Regions from separate parts of the Homo sapiens genome. Here region 1 is linked to region 2. The links come from fine-mapping of genetic effects on gene expression. A gene starts in region 2. The other region holds a variant in brackets. All regions are shown on one strand. Distances are from middle to middle.

Evidence for each region.
Region 1: its variant is fine-mapped to the expression of HECA in whole blood (GTEx, PIP above 0.99).

Annotation. Positions count from the first base shown.
Region 1 is chr6:139,334,928-139,337,835 of GRCh38, reverse strand. No RefSeq gene overlaps it. Among named protein-coding and RNA genes, the nearest start is that of CITED2, 38 kb to the left of the region's middle. The variant T/C (reference allele first, on the strand shown) is at 1,686.
Region 2 is chr6:139,133,890-139,136,797 of GRCh38, reverse strand. HECA (hdc homolog, cell cycle regulator) reads right to left here and starts at 1,718. Exons shown (of 4, transcript NM_016217.3): 1 at 1,131-1,718. The coding sequence starts at 1,401. RefSeq lists enhancers at 647-766, 1,632-1,926 and silencers at 877-1,146, 1,547-1,626, 1,737-1,926.

The DNA of each region.
Region 1 (2,908 bases), 200 kb before region 2:
GTGGATAAACAATTTTTGGTATGCCCATATAACAGAATACAAATCAATGCAAAAAGTGAACTATTGACTCACACAAAACATGGAAGAATCTCAAAATTATGCTGAGCGAAAAAAAATATATTTTTTCTCAGAATGCACACTATATTCCATGTATGTAAAATTCTAGAACACCAACTAATCTACAGTGTTAGAAAACAGATCAGTGGTTGCTTGGGGACTCAGAGGTATGGGGAGCAGGGAGAAGAAGGGGGTATTACCAACGGACATGAGGAAACTTATGATGCATATTTTCATTATCTTGATTATTATGCTGGGTGTATACAAATGTCAAAGCTTTTCAAGGTTTATAGTTTAATTATGTGCATTTTATTGTATGTCAATTTGGCCTCAATAAAGCTGTTAATAAAAATTTTGTCAAGCTTATGTTCCCCAGTAAATGAAATTTACTTCAAGTCACCAACAAAAAAACGTACAAGGTCCATTTTTCCTCTGTTCTGTGTTTACAACTGACAGTTAATATGAAAGACAGAATATCCAAAAATTCTATCTGCTGAGGGCCACAAATTATCAAGTCTCTTGTCAAGGGTGGCCAGCCACTGGTTAGTGGCTCAAGACACAAAATGCAGAACCAACACATTCAACTGACCATGATCATTTCTCCAGGGGTAATCTCAGTTCAAGTGTGCACTTCTGCCAGTCCAGACACTTGCTTCTTTATTATTATCCAAATGCTTGCACACATCTCACAAACTGGCACTAGTTCACCGATGATGATTTGGCCACTTTGGGAGAATTCCATATGTTTCCAAAATTGTCCATCTTACAGTGTTCTTAGAGCAAATGAAGTTTCTCTTCATTAGGACAGTAAAGTCCTAATGTTGAATGTACTATCTTTTTTGATTGGAATAAAGAAGCTTCTAAATAAAATTCTGATTCTCTAATAGCTTTAATTACAAGGAAAGCACCAAAAATCCATAGCTTATTACAGTCTGTCTTTTGATCCTGTGGCAAAGGCCTACCTTGCCTCACGGCTACAGCAGCCACTGCCAAATTCATGGCCGTGTCTGCTGGCACAATTCCAGGGGCTTTCTGGGAGCTCGTGCTACACAATTTTGGCCCTTAACTGAAAATACTCATTTCCAGCAAGCTGGTTTACTCCTGTAAGATCATCTTACCTCTTTGCAAATTACTAGCCATTATTATAACACTTTATACCTTGCTACTTCCACTCTCAGGAAAAGAAGAAATGCAAATAACTTGGGGTTACCTAATTCGTAACACCTCCCTAAAGTTAGATGCCACTTGGGCTAATTGAAATTTGGGGGAAGAAGCCTAAATTGAATGATTTTACCCTGAAACAATGTCTTAAAAATCCTAATTTGGCTAGGTTTATCCTGAATTAGAAGAATTAAATTTGTCATTACCAGGTAGAAATTTAGCATTTATGACAGAAATTAAATTTGGTTATAGAAAATTTTTAAAAATCTCTATTTCATGCACAATTAAGTCATGGACTGATCCATTTACAGCCACTAAAAAAGCATCCACCCCTACTAAGAGGAGGATCCAGCCTCCTGGTCTATCTCATTTGGGCAATGATGGAATGAATCATATAAGCTCCCAGACAAGGGTCTCAAGATAGAATTTAAAATAATTCCACTACAAGGATAAAGGAGATTATAGAA[T/C]AGATTGGGACAGAAATAGGCATGCTAAGCCAGAATTCACACAGGAGTTCATTTGACTCTAAACCTATGCTCTTTTTTTTTTCTGATGAGATGGTTCAGAGTTTGCGTTTCAACTCACTAGCTTAGAGTCTGAACATTATTGCCTTTTATGTAAAAGAGGGATTATAGCGATCTTAAAGGGTGAGAGAGCCTTTGTAAAGGCCTGACACTAGCGTTTGACTCATTTTATTTAAAATTATAGCTATTTATGTAGCAGAATGTCAGGTGATGTTGTGGAGAAACTGAGGAACCAACCAAAAAAAAAAAAAAAAGGTTATATACCAAATGATCAGTTTTCTGGCCAGAGAGAATTTGTATTGAAATTGGCAAGAAAGAGGCAGCAGGATTTTTGAACTGCCTGTACATGATTAAGTGAAAGTCAGAGGGAGTCAGAAAAGAAATTATACTTGCTTTCACAGCTCCGTTCTACAGCATTCTTCCACCACAAAAAAGCTTGCAGGTGATTTGTTCAGACCAGTTCTAAACGCCTGCAGAGGTAACAGCCCCACCTTTTGGAGATTATTACTTCACCTAACTCTGATGGGAGACAAGCTAATAGGACTTCCCATTAAGAGTAGTTCTGGATACTAAATTTACTCATTTTCCTCTGTAGTCTGATTCCACTTCTTTTTATTTTCACCAATGTTCAGTGATCTTGCTTTGACTTATTGTTGCTGTTGACCTTGACTCATGGCTTCAGGTTATTCTATTCACCATCTACCTGTCCCTAGTTCTTCTTCGCCCCCTCCCTAAAAACTTCCAAAAAACCTTTCTGAGAGTATGTTTCTAAGTAACAGCCTTCCCTGTATGTTACAGCCTCTAAGATTATGAAGTCAACACCGACATGCTTCTTTTGAGACAGATTTCATCATCACAGCAGTGAAAGAAACACAAGATGCGTTTTAAGGGTGACTTTTTGAAAGATGAAGATGGCTAGGGAGAAGTCTGTTGGATGGAAGATGAGCCCATTTGGCAAAGGATTAAATGAAGCAGCAAGTTTGATAAATCTGTTCGAGGTTTAAGAATATTCAGACACCTTTTCTTCCCAAGAAAATCCCCACACATCTCTTTTGGAACAAAGGCTTCTCTACAATGGTTCCAAATGATTCAGACATAACTTCCTGCATCTGTCACCAAAGGGATTTCTTCACTTTTAGTAAGACCATTAGCTGGCTTGCCAAATT
Region 2 (2,908 bases):
CCGGGCGTGGTGGCGGGCGCCTGTAATCCCAGCTACTCGGGAGGCTGAGGCAGGAGAATCGCTTCAGACCGGAAGACGGTGGTTGCAGTGAGCCGAGATTGCGCCACTACGCTCCAGCCTGGGCGAAATTGCAAACTCCGTCTAAAAAAAAAAAAACAAAACAAAAAAGTGCCTGATCTACATAAAGAATGGCTTCAAAAGCTGACGCTATAAATTAAAAGCCAGATATAACAATTCAAATCTCCCTTCATTAAAATACCTACGTTGTCTTCCTGGAAAAAGTGCCTGACTAGAGGAATTCAAAGAACTGTCCAAATAAGTAAGTGTTTGCCCAGCACCTTATAACGAAAACCATGGCTCTGTAATGAGAACAGAAATCCTGTCACATCTGGGCCAGTTCCTAAGTGTCCCCTCAAAAGGAACATTCAGGCACTACCTAAGATTATGAGGCTTCCTTCTGAAAATGTTAAGCACAATGACATAGAGAATGATTTTTCTTTTCTTTCTTTTCTTTTTTTTTTTTTTTTTTTAACTCCGGGCTGAGAACGGAAGTCAAGTTCAGATTCTCTTCCTTCCTCAAGCAAGCCAAAAAATTAAAGAGCAAACACAGAGGCCCTAAATGTCTCGAGGCCTCTTCACCTGTGGCGATCGACGCAGCAAGCCTGGGTGTGCTAAGAATTGAGGCTCTCTCTCCTTCATTCCGGGGGTTACGGGTGGCCTTGGAGCACCGGGAAGAATTAACCGGTGCCTAAGTTTTCAATCGGATCATTCTTCTCAACTTGGGCGGCTCTTTCCTCCCTTCCTTCCTCCCTTCGGCCCGGCACACACGGCGGGGCAGTGCCAGCGCGGGCAGCAGGCTGGGCCCGAGGGCAGCGCTGCCGCAGCCGGGAGCCCCTCAGAGTGTGGGGCGCGGGCTGCCCCCCGCGCGGACACCGGGCAGGGGCCGCAGATCTGTCCCCGCCGCCAGGCGTGGGGACCGCGAAGGGGCAGCCGCGGCGGGGCGGAGGGGCGGGGTGAGCACTTCCTGACTCTCGCATTGTCCACGCACCGCCCGCGCCACCCAGGGCCCCGCCACCGCGCCGTCCCCGTCGGGGAGGAAGTTGGCGCTCGCCCCGCCAGCCCCGTCTTACCGTTTTTGGCATCGCCCGCGGCCGCAGCCCCCGCGGCGGCCGCAGCGTTCGCGGCGCCAGTCCCCGCGCCTCCGGCGCCCGCCGCGCCTCCGGCGCCCGGCGCGCCCGCCGCCGCCGCCCCGCAACCGGCCGCCGCCGCCAGGGCCCCCCCGGCCGCCGCTCCCGCCGCGCCCGCCGCTGCCAGGGCCCCGGCTCCATTTTCCTGCTCGTCGCCGCTGCTGTTGGCGCGCTTGTTTTTGCGGCCGCCTTTGCTGTTTTTGGGGTTGGGCATCTCGCTCGCTCGCGTCCAGGTAGGTGCCCGGCGTCAGCGAAGGCGGATCCCAGAGGCACGGCCGTTCCCGGCCCTGCGTGAAGCCGGCTCCGGGAAAGAACGGAGGGCGCGAGCCGGCGGTTCCCTCGGCTCCCGTCTAGCCGCACGGCCCGTGCCGCGCCATCCTGGCCGCCGCGCCCTCTCCGGCTTCCTGGAGCCGGCACGCGGCCACCCGAGGCTCGCAGCCGCGCGGGCGCCGCGGGCCCGGGGCGCAAGCGAGACGCTCCCGAGCCGGAGGGAAAAGGCGGGTCTCCGGCTTGTTTTGATTCGGCTGCACTGACACGCTCTGGGCCCGCCCCCTCCCGTGACGACACTGGGGATTCGGCCTGGCCGCGCCCACCAGGTGACCTCACGGCTGACGGGACCGCCCGCGTGACGTCACGCCCCGCGCGGGGCCTGCCCACCTCGAGTGACGTCATCCAGGCGTCCCCACCCGGGCCTCCTGGACTCCCGGGCGTTCATGAGCTGCCCTGCTTGACTTGCTCCACCCGCCAGTGCAGTGGCATGTGGAGTTCTTCGGTGGCCTCCTGGCCTTAATGTAATTGAGGCTTAGAACAGTATGGTCTGGAAAAATAAGCTGTGACTAGAGCAAGAATGGAAAACAAAAGATTTTGGATTAATAACTCATTCAAAGGCTATGCCTTTCAGTAACAGTAATTAAAGAAACAGGGGACCGGGCGCGGTGGCTTATGCCTGTAATCCCAGCACTTTGGGAGGCCGAGGCGGGTGTATCACGAGGTCAAGAGATCGAGACCATCCTGGCCAACGTGGTGAAACCCTGTCTCTACTAAAAATACAAAAAAAAATTAGCTGGGCGTGGTGGCGTGCGCCTGTAGTCCCAGAAACTCGGGAAGCTGAGGCAGGAGAATCACTTGAACCTGGGATCCGAGATCGCGCCACTGCACTCCAGCTTGAGCAACAGAGCGAGACTCTGTCTCAAAAAAAAAAAAAAAAAAAGAAAAGAAAGAAAGAAACAGGGTAGAGTTCCCAGACAATGGGGATGAACACCAGGGTCCTGAATGGGAAGCCTTCACAGTCTGGTGGTGAAAACAATTCACTCAAACAAGACCCATCATCCAGGGATGTAACTAGATGTTGCCTGGACTCTGAAGCAGTCCCTGCTTGGGGGGAACCCATCCCTATGCATAGGGCTGAGTTGTCCTGAAAGATAGTGAAAGATAGGTAGCCAGGTTATGAGCAGTAGGAGATTAGGTGACACCAGTGAAGACAGGCAATATGAGGGCAGGGGACCCCTGGGAAGAGCTCCCCTTGATCTCTTTCTGCAATTCTATTCTACCTTTTCGGCCAACTCCTTCCCTTCCTTCAGGTCTCAGCTCAAATACATCACTTCCACAGAGACCTTCCCAGGAGAGCTGTCAGAAGTTCCACCCTGTTATTTTCCTCCTCCATCTCTAATTATGTTGGCAATGTAGGTGTTTACTTATTTCTTGTATATCTCCCTCTCACT